4 linked regions of the Homo sapiens genome follow. The protein of the gene in region 4 purifies or fractionates together with the protein of the main gene of each other region. This does not show direct contact. Each region holds a gene or a part of one and is shown on either strand. Other genes may lie near its edges.

Evidence for each region.
Region 1: the proteins of ZHX2 (region 4) and RELB purify together in Homo sapiens (affinity purification with western blotting, with the first as the bait; one study listed by BioGRID). This does not show direct contact.
Region 2: the proteins of ZHX2 (region 4) and USP50 purify together in Homo sapiens (affinity purification with western blotting, with the first as the bait; one study listed by BioGRID). This does not show direct contact.
Region 3: the proteins of ZHX2 (region 4) and USP49 purify together in Homo sapiens (affinity purification with western blotting, with the first as the bait; one study listed by BioGRID). This does not show direct contact.

Annotation. Positions count from the first base shown.
Region 1 is NC_000019.10:45,021,964-45,025,463, reverse strand, and holds part of RELB (transcription factor RelB), read right to left. Parts: intron 3,412-3,500; coding exon 3,254-3,411; intron 3,227-3,253; exon of another isoform or gene 2,992-3,226; coding exon of another isoform or gene 2,948-2,991; intron 136-2,947; coding exon 44-135; intron 1-43.
Region 2 is NC_000015.10:50,529,667-50,533,166, forward strand, and holds part of USP50 (ubiquitin carboxyl-terminal hydrolase 50), read right to left. Parts: intron 2,562-3,500; exon of another isoform or gene 2,346-2,561; intron 264-2,345; coding exon 131-263; intron 1-130. UniProt on the Homo sapiens protein: Deubiquitinating enzyme that removes conjugated ubiquitin from specific proteins to regulate different cellular processes. Regulates the inflammasome signaling pathway by deubiquitinating 'Lys-63'-linked polyubiquitination of the PYCARD/ASC adapter protein.
Region 3 is NC_000006.12:41,797,876-41,801,375, reverse strand, and holds part of USP49 (ubiquitin carboxyl-terminal hydrolase 49), read left to right. Parts: intron 1-1,437; coding exon 1,438-1,546; intron 1,547-2,446; coding exon 2,447-2,652; coding exon of another isoform or gene 2,653-2,699; exon of another isoform or gene 2,700-3,500. UniProt on the Homo sapiens protein: Deubiquitinase that plays a role in several cellular processes including transcriptional regulation, cell cycle progression or innate immunity.
Region 4 is NC_000008.11:122,952,655-122,956,154, reverse strand, and holds part of ZHX2 (zinc fingers and homeoboxes protein 2), read right to left. Parts: coding exon 2,131-3,500; 3' UTR 2,127-2,130; exon of another isoform or gene 618-2,126; intron 1-617. UniProt on the Homo sapiens protein: Acts as a transcriptional repressor. Represses the promoter activity of the CDC25C gene stimulated by NFYA.

The DNA.
Region 1 (3,500 bases), on a different chromosome or scaffold from region 4:
GTTTGGGAGGACGGGATGGTCAGGTCAGGCAGGGGGTGCTCACCGTTGTAGGGGTCAATGCCCAGTTGAATCTTCCGCTCAATGGCAGCCTCAATCTCCTTCTTCCTCACACACTGGATGCCCAGGTTGTTAAAACTGAGGGGGTGACGGGGGAGGGAGAGGAGTGCTCGTGAGCAGGCAAGTGTGGCCCTAACCTGCAGGAGGGCTCTGGCAGATGCTGCTGTGGGGCTCAGGCTCTCAGGGGCTGACATCCCAGGCCCAGGGGTCCCAGCATTAGAAACGGTCTGGGGTTTAAACCTCTCAGAAGGCCAGCGCGGTGGCTCACACCTGTAATCCCAGCACTTTGGGAGGCCGAGGCAGGAGGATCACTTGAGGTCAGTAGTTCAAGACCAGCATGGCCAACATGGTGAAACCCTGTCTCTACTAAAAATACAAAAATTAGCAGACATAGTAGTGCATGCCTGTAATCCCAGCTACTCGGGAGGCTGAGGCAAAAGAATCACTTGAACCCGGGAGGCAGAGGTTGCAGTGAGCCGAGATTGTGCCACTGCACTCCAGCCTGGGCAACAGAGTTAGACACCATCTCAAACAATAAAAAATAAAATAAACCTTTTGGCCAGACGTGGTGGCTCACATCTGTAGAATCCCAGCACTTTGGGAGGCCAAGGTGGGCAGATCACGAGGTCAAGAGAGGGACACCATCCTGGCCAGCATGGTGAAGCCCTGTCTCTACTAAAAATACAAAAATTAGCTGGGTGTGGTGGCGCACACCTGTAATCCCAGCTACTCAGGAGGCTGAGGCAGGAGAATTGCTTGAGCCCGGGAGGTAGAGGTTGCAGAGAGATGAGATCATGCCACTGCACTTCAGCCTGGCGACAGAGCAAGAATCTGTCTCAAAAAATAAAAATAAGCATGTCAAAGGTTCTTGAGAAGATCCAGAACATGCCTTATCTTTACCATGTGAGAACACTGGCCAACTTCATCTTTAATAGGAAAACTTCAGGCCGGGCGTGGTGGCTCACGCCTGTAATCCCATCACTTTGGGAGGCCGATACGGGCAGATCAGGAGGTCAGGAGATCGAGACCACCTTGGCTAACACGGTGAAACCCCGCCTCTACTAAAAATACAAAAAAATTAGCCAGGCATGGTGGCGGGTGCCTGTAGTCCCAGCTACTCGGGAGGCTGAGGCAGGAGAATGGCGTGAGCCTGGGAGGCGGAGTTTGCAGTGAGCCGAGATCGCGCCACTGCACTCCAGCCTGGGCGACAAAGCGAGACTCCGTCTCAAAATAAATAAATAAATAAATAAAATAAGAAAACTTCAGGGCCAGGTGCGGTGGCTCACGCCTGTAATCCCAGCACTTTGGGAGGCCGAGGCGGGTGGGTCACAAGGTCAGAATTTTGAGATCAGCCTGACCAACGTGGTGAAACCCCGTCTCTACTAAAAATACAAAAATTGGAGGCCGAGGCGGGTGGGTCACAAGGTCAGAATTTTGAGATCAGCCTGACCAACGTGGTGAAACCCCGTCTCTACTAAAAATACAAAAATTAGCCAGGTGTGGTGGCTGGCGCCTGTAATCCCAGCTACCTGGGAGGCTGAGGCAGGAGAATCGTTTGAATCCAGGAGGCAGAGATTGCAGTGAGCAGAGATCGTGCCATTGCACTCCAGCCTGGGTGACAGAGTGAGACTCGGTCTCAAAAAAAAAAAAAAAAAAAAAAAAAAAAGAGGCTGGGCACAGTGGGCTCACACCTGTAATCCCAGCACTTTGGGAGGCCGAGGCGGGCGGATCACGAGGTCAGGAGATGGTAACCATCCTGGCTAACACGGCGAAACCCCGTCTGTACTAAAAATACAAAAAAAATAGCCGGGTGTGGTGGTGGGCGCCTGCAGTCCCAGCTACTTGCGAGGCTGAGGCAGGAGAATCACTTGAACCCAGGAGGCAGAGCTTGCAGTGAGCCGAGATCGCGCCACTGCATTCCAGCCTGGGCGACAGAGCGAGACTCTGTCTGAAAGAAAGAAAGAAAGAAGGACGGAAGGAAGGAAGGAAGGAAGGAAGGAAGGAAGGAAGGAAAGAAAACTGCAAATTAAACACCAATGAAGATGCCTTTGTTTTGGGGCACTCATCAAAATAGCAAAAATCAAAATGTTTCATAATACTCGGTGCTGGTGAGGTTGTGGAGAATCAGGTGCTCTCACCCATTACTGATGGGTCTGTAAATTGCATAACATGGCAGTATTCATTCATTCCACAAATATTTCCTGAGCACCTACTATGTGCCAGTTACTATGCCAGACACTCGGAATACAGCAGGGAATGTAAGAGACAAGATCTCTGCTCTCGGAACTTATATTTTCACTAAGTTTAAAAATTTCTAAAATTAAATCTTCCAGACCTGAGTGTGAGCAATACTCAGCCCTACCTCTGAAGTGCGTGCTGCCTTTAGGGCTCTACCCAAAGTCAGTGTAACACAGTGAAGTGTGTCACTACCTTTCTGTCTCTTTGCACTATGAAAAAATGCTCAAAGTTTTAGATGTAGCCACTGTATGTTGTGTAAGCATTTGTGGACATATGCAAAATAAAAGTTATACAGTGCTTCTGTTTTAAAAAGAAAGAAAAGGCCGGCACGGTGGCTCATGCCTGTAATCCCAGCACTTTGGGAGGCCGAGCTGGGAGGATCACCTAAGGTCAGCAGTTCGAGACCAGCCTGGTCAACATGGTGAAACCCCATTTCTACTAAAAATCCAAAAAATTCGCTGGGTGTAGTGTCGCATGCCTGTAATCTCAGCTACTCGGGAGTCTGGGGCAGGAGAATCACTTGAATCCGGGAGGTGGAGGTTGGAGTGAGCTGAGATCGAACCATTGCACTCCAGCTTGGGCAACAAGAGCAAAACTCCGTCCCAAAAAAAAAAAAAAAAAGATGAATTGTAAAGTAAGAGAAAGAACAGACCTTGCAGTTAAGTCAGGTCTGCAGTCAAATCCCAGCTCTGTCATCAATTATCTGTGCTCCTTACCCTCTCTGAGCCTCAGTTTCTTCCTCTACAAAATAGGGATAAAATGTATGTGAATATGTGTGTGGCAAGGCTCCAGGCCTAAGTGAGGCCCTCCACTGTCCCCAGGCCTGTCTCCCACCTAGAAGAGGCAGTGGGGAGGGTTTACCCAAGCTGCCCTCTGCTCTAAAGTTTCATGGGTGGCCTCCAGTCGCTTAGAATCTCCATGATCAAGGATGAGAGGTCGGAGGTCAGGGGGTGGGTACCTGTGCCGGGGGCTGACGTGAGGCCGGAGCCGCACCCTGCAGATGCCGTCGGTGCAGTCTTTCCCCACGAGGCTGTGGGGGTGGACTCGGTGAGGCCAGTCCTTCCACACCAGGCAGGCAGTCACCTCCACCTCCCGCAGCCCTCCACAATCCCGGAGCTGCAGGAAGAGAAGTCCTCTTTGGGGGTCCCATCACCGATGCCTGCGTCCATCCAAACTCCTTGGGGCCTTCCTTGGCAGCTCCCCAA
Region 2 (3,500 bases), on a different chromosome or scaffold from region 4:
AGTTTCCTGGTCTATATTTTTTAAAAGTAGGGCATAAGCCAGGGAGAGACAGGAGAAATAGGGATTCAAGCAGATAATTCTGGAGTTTTCTTTAAAATTGGATTACTTTTAACAGTTTGTTTTTACTCACCACCACTGCACAGAGGTTGTATTTAGGATATTTCCGGAAAATTGAGCAAATATAAGGAGTGAGGTCCAAGTTAGTGAGTGGGTAATGAATATCCGTTCTCAGCTTCCTTTTTGTTGTACCCTGAATGTCAAACCTGCAGGTATAATAAATGTGTGAAATACAAAGTAAGCTTGTGAACCACTCATTTGTCTACATGACAAATTCCGAGTATTTTAAAAGTAATTTCTTGACTGGGCACAGTGGCTCATGCCTGTAATCCCACAACTTTGGGAGGCCAAGGTGGACATATCCCTTGAGCCTAGGAGTTTGAGACCAGCCTGAGTAACATGGCAAAACCCCGTCTCTACATAAAATTCTCACCTGTAGTCCCAGCTACTCAGGAGGCTAAGGTAGGAGGATCACCTGAGCATAGGGAGGCTGAGGCTGCAGTGAGTCGTGATTGTGCCACTGCACTCCAGCCTGGGTGACAGAGTGAGACCCTGTCTCTAAAAAAAAGGAACTTCTGGCCTGGCAAGGTGGCTCACGCCTGTAATCCTAGCACTTTGGGAGGCTGAGGCGGGTGGATCACTTGAGGTCAGGAGTTAGAACCAGCTTGGCCAATATGGTGAAACCTCGTCTCTACTAAAAATGCAAAAAAATTAGCCGGGCATGGTAGTGGATGCCTGTAATCCCAGCTACTCGGGAGGCTGAGGCCGGAGAATTGCTTGAACCTGGGAGGCGAAGGTTACAGTGAGCTGAGATCGCACCACTGCACTCCAGCCTGGGTGACAGAGCGAGACTCCTTTCCAAAAATAAAAAATAAAAAAAAAAAGTAATTTCCTGGAAAGATTATTTGGTACAGACTTATAAATTACTTTTTTCTTATCTATTTAAATACCGCATCCACAAGCCTCACCAAAATGAGACTGGAATTTGAATCAAGGAGTGAGATAGCAAAGATTCAAGCTAAACTGAATCTAGCAGGGCAAAAAGAAAGGGATAACCAAGGCTCAACATTGGGGGAAGCAGAAACCCCATTGATAATTCCTGAGGCTTTTGCTCCAGCTGAGCCTATTTATTCTAACCAAGCTAGCTCAGCTTTTCCTTATCTTGTTTTCAGCACAGGTAGTCTTGGCAATGTCCTGTTTTCAAGCTCTGAGTTTTTGTTTGTTTTTTTTTAATGTTTTAATAAGAACATTTTGTGAAAATCTTTCACATTCTGTATTGTTACATGGATCCTAAGTTTGTAAATCTGGGCTCACATCAGAGTTACTCAGAAGCTTTTAAAAATATAATTATGTTCATTTTGGAAAAATGGCTGATGGAGGTCTGAGGCCGGGAAATTACCGCGACTGAGACATTCTTGTGTCAGAAAGCAAGATACCCTGTTTTCAAAAAACTAAGGGAATGCCATGTGATCCAGCAATTCTGTACCTAGGTATCATCCCAAGAGAAATGAAGCCTTAGGCCCACATAACAAGCTATCTGCTAGTATTTGTAGAAGTTGTATTCCTAACTATGCAAAACTGTAAACAACCCAAACGTCCATCAACTGGTGGAGACATAAGCAACTATGGTACACTCACAAAAAGGAATAGCACACAGCAATAAAAAAGGCACTACTAATGCACGCAACAACACAAAAGAATCATGCTAAGTGAAAGAAAAACTCTGAAAGCTACATACAGTATGACATAGCACGTTCTGGAAAACAAAATTATAGGGACGGAAATCAGATCAACAATTTCTATAGGCTTAGGGAGGAGAATGATTAGAGAGGAGCATGAGATAACTTTTTGGGGTGATGGAAATGGTTTATATGTTGGTTGTAATGGTTACATGACTGCATGCATTTGTCAGAGTTCATAGAACTGTGCACCTAAAAATGATACATTTTAGGTAAGCATACCCTAATAAACTAATGGGGCCCCAGGAGCTGACTTGAAGGGGCTCCCACTGGCCAATTTTGAACAATTTGAACACCAAAAGCAATGATGAGAGACATCTAGTTTTCAGTTCAACACGTAAGGAAACTTTGAAGTCACCATTCTGTCCTAACAAGTTAAAAGCTAAATAAAGCTTTTGGTTATTTTCCTTCCCTCAGGAAGGAAAGAATTAACCGAAAGGAAAATAAACAGCTCTTCTTAGAGCTGAAAGAGCAGTGAGGTCACAGGACAAACCACTGCCCCCAAAACTGGAAAAACAGACCAGCAAACATAGAGAATCACAGACTTACCAGAGCCAAAACTGCCGAGCAGAAACCTCTGAGGGAACAGGTCTGCGTAGGAAAACCTGAACTGTAATTGATGAATTGCTAGAGGCTCAGTGCAGAGTCTGAGAGTTAAAAACTCCAAAGAATCCAGTCACAGGGGGACCACACTTTGTGAATTTTCCTTCCAGGAGCCCAACCACACTCGCACGGTAAATATTAGAGACAAATCTCCTCATGCTTCTGGCAAGAAGAAGGGAAAGAAACCATTCTGAAATAGGCTAAAGCACCCTGTTCGTAAAGCCTGCCCACAGGAGAAACTCATTAACCAGAGCCTAACCTGCTGGGGTCTTATCAGAGCTTAACTAACCTGGGAGAAGGAAAACACCCAACTCCAGCCCACTCTAGCCATCCTGTTCCACCGAAGCGGGTGTGGAGGGACTGAGCAGCGCTTGTGAAGTTCGTAGTCTGGAGGCTGAAGTTCATTAAAAGACCGAGACCCACTCATAGGATTATGGAACGCTTCCCCTCCCCCTCCGCCTTACCACCCCATCATTAAGGTCTATTTAAGTCAGTTTCTCTTACCCAGTTCATCATATCTGGCTATCAGGAAAAAATTACAAGGCATACTAAAAGGCAAAACACACAGTTTGAAGAGACAGTAAGCATCAGAACCAGATAGCGCAGGGGTGTGGGAATTTTCAGACTAAGAATTTAAAACTGATCAACACACTAAGGGTTCTAACGAATAAAGTAGACAGCATGCAAGAACAGACGGTCAATGTAAGCAGAGACTTGGAAATCCTAAGAATGAACGAATGAACCAAAAGAAATGCTAGAGGTATCCTTGTTAGTACAGTGGTTAGTTTCTTTTCTTTTCTTTTAACTACTAGAGGAAAAAACTGCATCTTCTAACATGTGAAGAATGCCTCTGATGGGCTCATTAGTAGACTGGACACAGCTGAAGAAAGAATCTCTGAGCTTGAGGAACCTCAGTAGAAACTTTTAAAACTGAAAAGAAGAAAGAAAAAAGACTGGCCGGTCAGGCGCAGTGGCTCACGCCTGTATCCCAGCGCTTTGGGAGACCAAGGTGGGAGAATCGCTTGAGCCCAGGAGTTTGAGACCAGCCTGGGCAACAAAGTAAAAGCCCCTCCCCCTGCCCCCACCATGCCTCCTAAAAAA
Region 3 (3,500 bases), on a different chromosome or scaffold from region 4:
CATCATCTGGCTGTGATTTGCTACCTTTCATGAGTAGTACAGACAGGACTTGGAATCAGATGCCCAGCTGCTCTTCAAACACTGAGCCCATGATATCAACAGCTCAAGACAATTAACAGGGACTGCAGTAGACCACTAATTTTCTACTCTCATCCATTTACCAATTTAATATAACAAAACAGTCATCAGTAAATGGTTACAGGAAAGGCTTCTGATAGAAACTAAGAGAACTCTATTTCCATTATTTATTTGCTGAAATTTAGAAATGCATTTCCTCAAGGCTGGGCACAGTGGGCTCACACCCATAATCCCAACACTTTGGGAGGCCAAGGTGGGAGGACTGCTTGAAGCCAGGACTTCGAGAAATGCATTTCCCCCACAGTTAGAAACAAAATTAGAGACTGATCACTGGTTCTGCTTTGGAGTAGATGAATTTAGCCTACCTGTCAGCTTTGTCCTTGCATGTCCAGCAATGTGCTTTTATCTAGGAAATATGTTTCAAAAACTACGCACAGCATAAAAATATAAAACAGTTTATTTTCTAAATGTTTGAATATGCCATAAGCAAATCATGCTAAAGAAAAAAATGTGTTTAAATACTCTATCATTTAGTAATCTTATCCTTTTTTTCCTAAGCCTGAAAGATATGCATTATTTCCTATTTTACTGGTGAGGAAACTGAGGTTCAGAGTTTTGAATAACTTATCCATTAGCACACAACTAGTTGTGAGCAGGAAGTAGAATTAGGCTTACCTAGTGCAAACAAAAAGCTTTTTAAAATCATATTGTGGGGTATCATAATTGAAGTTATAAGCCATTGTGAAGACATGGAACCTTAACATATGCTTCTACTCTATGTGCTTGCTGCTGCACGTTCCATTATATTCCATTATACGCAAAGTTGCTGATGGCAAAAATTGGAAAGATTTGAGTTGCTTGTAACAGTCGACCCAAATAACAATGACTTAAAATGAGAGATTTTATTGTTCTGTTACATAAAACAAGTCTGAAGGACATTCAGGGCCAGCATGGTGGCTGCATGGTCATCAGTGACCCAAGCTATTTCTGTTTTCTGTTTTACTATCCCATTGCAAGACTTCTGTCTTCAAAGTTACCTTTTGGTCCAGGAGGAATTCCAGCAGTTTCAGATAGTGGGAAGGCCAAAGGGATGTGCCTTACAACTGAGTCAGCCCTGTCTAAGCAGAGTCCCACACAGTCATTCCTTTCATCTTAGCCAGAACTTCCATGGCCACACCATGCAGGCGTGTGAAGCTGGGAAATGCAGTCATAAAGAGTGTCACATTGCGCCCCCCAAAAAATTGAGGTTCAGATACTGAGAAATATGGAGAATGCATATTGAATGGCAAGTCACTGTCTCTGCCATAGCTAGAAAAAACTCCTCACAACCTATGTCTTATACCTTCCCAAACCACATAGGCAAACGACGAAAATCCAATCCCAAACCCCTTGTTCTGAGTGAAGCTAGAAAGCAGTTAATGATCTACAGACTACCTCAGGTTCTCCGGCTGCACCTTAAAAGATTCAGGTGAGCTTGCTGTGGGAGTCCCAGCTGGGTGAGAGCTGTGGGAATAGCTGCTCCAAAGGCTTTGGTGAGGGCAAATGTCTTCTATGGTGTTGGGAGGGGAAGCCTGTTCACTTGAGACCTCGTGTTTTCCATGGAGATTAAACTGTTCACATCCACTAAGGCAAATTGATGTGGGAGCCCAGCAGGACTGGGCTTTTGCTCTCATGCTCCTGTGTAATTAATTATCCAGCCTGCACTGGGTGTCTGTGCTTAAAGATTTTCTAGCCTGGCTTGGACTTATGTAGATTCATCTTCAGGATGAAGTATAAAATAATCTGCAAAAGAAGCACAGGCAGGAAACTACAAAAAGACTGTTGCTTGAATTGCTTGTTTAGGGATCTCTAGGTTTAGAGTACTTCATGGAACATTAACAGCAAATAAATGGGCCAGGCGCAGTGGCTCATGACTGTAACCCTAGAACTTTGGGAGGCCAAGGTAGGCAGATTGCTTGAGCTCAGGAGTTTGAGACCAGCCTCGGCAACATGGTTAAAACCCTGTCTCTACAAAAAATGCAAAAATTAGCCAGGCATGGTGGTGTGCACCTATAGTCCCACCTACTCGGGAGGCTGAGGTGGGGGGATCACCTGAGCTCGGGAAGGTTGAAGCTGCAGTGAGCCTTTATCAATCACACCACTGCACTGCAGCCTGGGCAACAGAGTGAGACCCTGTCTGAAAATAAATAAATAAATAAATAAATAAATAAATAAATAAGTGTGAACATTGATTACCACCATTTTATTGATGGGAAAACCAAAACCAGAAGGTTAAATTTTCTCAGTTTCCTGTTTTATTAATACCTACCTCTACCTACGATTATATATGCCAGTTTTTACTAGTAACAAGCTTATATCCATGTTCTAGGTGGTCTGGCCGTAATCATCGAGAGAAGATTGGGGTCCATGTCGTCTTTGACCAGGTATTAACCATGGAACCTTACTGCTGCAGGGACATGCTCTCCTCTCTTGACAAAGAGACCTTTGCCTATGATCTCTCCGCAGTGGTCATGCATCACGGGAAAGGGTTTGGCTCAGGACACTACACAGCCTATTGCTACAACACAGAGGGAGGTGCGTGCGCTTTACTCTGTGGGGTGGGGGACACGGAAAGGGGTTGATTTGTCCACATTTTATTGTTTTCCTTTTATTTCCATCCCATGGATTACCTAGAGGGAAATTACATACATCAAAAATCCAGTGGAAAGAATTGTGAAAATTGGGTTGGGCGCCGTGGCTCACACCTGTAATCCTAGCGCTTTGGGAGGCCGCGGTGGGTGGATCACCTGAGGTCAGGAGTTCGAGACCAGCCTGGCCAACATGGTTAAACCCCGTCTCTACTAAAATAGTACAAAAATTAGCCGGGCGTGGTGGTGGGCACTGGTAATCCCAGGTACTCAAGAGGCTGAGGCAGGAGAATCGCTTGAACCTGGGAGGCAGAGGTTGCAGTGAGCCAAGATTATGCCACTGCACTTCAGCCTGGGTGACAGAGCAAGACTCTTATCTCAAAAAAAATAAAAAGAATTATGAAAGTTGGATTCAAATTTTGGGTATATTACTAAGTAACAACATATGGTTGTTCTAAGAATTAAAAGGAACTGACATGTAAAAGTGCTTAGAACAGGACCTAGGCCCTGTGCAATGGCTCACACCTGTAATTCCAACACTTTGGGAGGCAGAGGCGGGAGGATTGCTTGAGGCCGAGGGTTCAAGACTAGCCTGGGCAACATAGCGAGACTGCATCTCTACAAAAAATTTAAAAATTATCCAGGTGTAATGGTGTGCACCTGTGATCCTAGCTACTTGGGAGGCTGAGGTGGGAGAATTGCTCAAGCCCAGGAGTTTGAAGTTGCAATGAGCTATGATTTCACCACTGCATTCTAGCCTGGGCAACAGAGTGAGATCCTGACTCAAATAAATAA
Region 4 (3,500 bases):
GAAGATGGGAGGTCGGGCGTGGTGGCTCACGCCTGTAATCCCAGCACTTTGGGAGGCCAAGGTGGGTGGATCATCTGAGGTCAGGAGTTTGAGATCAGCCTGGCCAACACGGCAAAACCCCGTCTCTACTAAAAATATGAAAATTAGCCGGGTGGGGTGGCGCATGCCTGTAATCCCAGCTACTCGGGAGGCTGATGCAGGAGAACTGCTTGAACCCAAGAGGTGGAGGTTGCAGTGAGTTGAGATCGTGCCATTGCATTCCAGCCTGGGCAACAGAGTGAGACTCTGTCTCAAAAAAAAAAAAAAAAAAAAAAATCACTCCCTCATTTTAATGAGGGAGGTATGGGCTAGACTGGTAGGTTCTTCTAAGGTGGGAGAATGGCCAGAGGTGGCCAGGTAGAGGTGGGAAGTTGCTGTCATTGTGACCTCAGTACACTTCTATCCCCTTCCTTTCACTCACGCCCTCCCCTTTGGGTTGTGCCCACACCCTTGACACACAGGCATTTCCTCCTGCAAGTGGGAGGAGAAAGGAGAATGGAACATGATGGCATTCTGGGATTGGCTGCTCGTTAAAGTGCTCTTTTAATAGCGGATGGAACTGGCTAAAACAAGGTTTCTAGAGAATTTCATTTATTTGTCAGCTGCCTCATTTTATTAGTGAATCAATGAGTTAATGAGCGACGTGGTCAGCCAAAGTTGTCCAAGTTCATTAAGACAGAGGTGTGGTAATTTCCAGGGCTGCCTTTGGGACCTTATCAATCATTCTGGAGGTTCTTACCTTTATTTTATATTTTGTAAAGATAACTTGGGAGGCCCATTCCGTGGTATTTTAAGTGACCTCTGGAGAAGCCTACCTGGGCAAATCGTGCATCTTCCTCCTTGTAATATTTGCTTTCCCTCCCACCAGCCCTCCCCCTGCCACTGCCCCCATTTCTCAACTCACCACCAAGCTGCTGTGCTTCAGGCCTCGATTTGCACTGACCTCTTAGGAAGCAGAATACCAAGGGCTTCAGTGGCATGTCCCATTATGGGGATGACATGGCCATTAGTAACCATGGAAACCGCCCTGCCACCCCCCCCCCCCCGGCTTATGTGACTCTACAGGCCTAATTTACACCCGGCTCTTCCAGATTTGAAGGGGTTATGGGGACCCAAGCACAGTGGCACCTTCCTTTTGCCCTGACAAGGCAAATATCAAGCACTTTCAAAGCCTTTTCAGATTAGAAGAAATAAGCTCAGGTCTTTGATTCAGTAAACTTGGATATGTATTCTTAAAAAATCCAAAAAGAAAAGGGGGGAAAAAAAAAAAGAAACAACCTCTTCATGTTTGGTGTTTTTACAGCAACAAACACAAAACACACAGAGGGAGGATGTGTTTTCTAACAGTCAAAACTAACCTTCAGAATGGACAGGCCTGAAGGCTGGAGCCCAAACAGGCCACAGCCAGCGGTGCTGCCCCCTGGGCACAGCCTTACAAATGAGGACGTAGGTTCCATCAGCCCCCATTTTTCTTCTTTTTTCAAAGAACCTTTACAAATAACTCATCAGCCGGGCTCAGTGGCTCATGCCTGTAATCCCAGCACTTTGGGAGGCAGATGCAAAGGAATTCCTTGAGTCCAGGAGTTTGAGACCAGCCTGGGCAACAAAGTGAGACCCCGTCTCTACCAAAATATTAAAATATTAGTTGGGTGTGGTGGCAGATGCCTGAAGTCCCAGCTACTTGATAAGCTGAGGGGGGAGGATCGCTTGGGCCCAGGAGTTTGAGGCTACAATGACCTATGATCGAGCCACTGCACTGCAGCCTGGGTGGCAGAGCAAGACTCTGTCACTAAAAACAAAACAAAACAAAACACCAAAACCAAAACCAGACCCTTCCACTACAAGAATAAGTATGTGAGGTAATGCATACGGGAATCAGCTTAACTGAGCCATCCCACTAGGTAAACATATTTCAAAACATCATATTGTATGTGATCAATATACATCATTCTTATTTGTTAATTACAAGAAAAAGACGCCACCATCTGTGTCAACATCTCTGTACCCTACAATCTATATTAACCCTGGCAACGAAAAGAAAGCAAGCTGCGTTCTCCCCTGCTGCCTGGGTGAGCAGGTGGAATTACCTGTCTAGGCCTGGCCAGCCTCTGCAGGGACGCAGTCGGAGTCTGATTCAGCCAGTTCCGACACACCTTCTGCCGCAGCCTGACTCCAGCTATCTGATCTATCTGAGATCGCATCCTCCTCCCCGACCGTCACCTCCACGTAATCCACAACGCTCGACTCCTCGTTCTCGTCGCTACCCTGGCCGTCCCGGCTGCTGCCCTCTGACCGGTCTGAGGTGGCCTCTGAGGGCTTTGCTGGCAAACAGTCTTTTGCTGGCTCGCTGCCTACTTTTACCCTGGTCACCAACTTCTCCAAGTCCTCTTCGCAGAGCTTTTTGGGGTCCTTGTAATATTGTGGAACCACATCACCCCCGTTCTTTGGGCTCTCGGCCATGGGTTTTGTTGCTTTCCTTGCTACGGCATCGTAGCCGTGATCATCTGCCATGGGCTGGTGCTGGTACTGCTCCATCCACTTCACGGTTCCCGTTTTCAGCAAGCATCTGTTCTCCTTGAACCAACGCACAATCTCAGTTCGGACCAGGCCAGTCTTGGCCGCTAACTGGTCGTACTCCTGGGGAGTAGGCCACTGGGTTCTTGCAAACGTGCTCCTCAGGAGATGAACCTGTTCTTGACTTTTTGCAATTGCTGGCGAAGGGCTGGGCAGAGAACTTGTTAACTGGGCACCGGAGAGCTGGTCGAGTCGAGACAGAGCACCATTGGGGGCTCCCACATCTTGGCCTTTTTTGCCAGACCCCATGGAATCCAAGACAGCTTGTTCCATGCTGTCTCGAAGCTTCCGCCTCTCCGAGAACCAGGAGTCGATCTCTCTCCTGCTCAGCTTGGTCTCCACCCTTAGCCGATCCAGTTCTGCTTGGGTAGGAAAAGAACTTTTCAAAAAGCTGTCTTCCAAGATTTTAACCTGACCCTGTGTTTTCTCTTTGAACTTCTGGGGGGCAAAGTCTGGGTACGCATGATACGTGCGACCGTGTCGGGAGGCCGCGATGGCCAACTGGTCTTTGGCAAGGGATTCGCTGGTGATGTGGACGATGCCCCTTTGACACCGATATCGGTGGTCACTGAACCACTTCTTGATCTCGCTCCTGGCAAGGCCAGTCACCTCGATGAGCCGGTAAACCTCGGCATCGTCAGGGAACTGGCTCTGGAGAAAGCTGGCCTTGAGATGTGCTATCTGCTCCTTTGTCTTCTTGCGGTCACTGGCTGGTGTGAGCGGGGGGTTGGCCACCTTGGGTGGGGGCTCTGGCACCTGAGCGATGTGTGGACGCTTGGGTTCGGGGGCAGCTTGGGGAGTCACCAAGGGTCTCTTCTGGCCATGGTTGGTGACTCCTGCCACGGCAAGTGTGATGGGGGAGCAAGAGACGGTTGTTGACCCGCTGG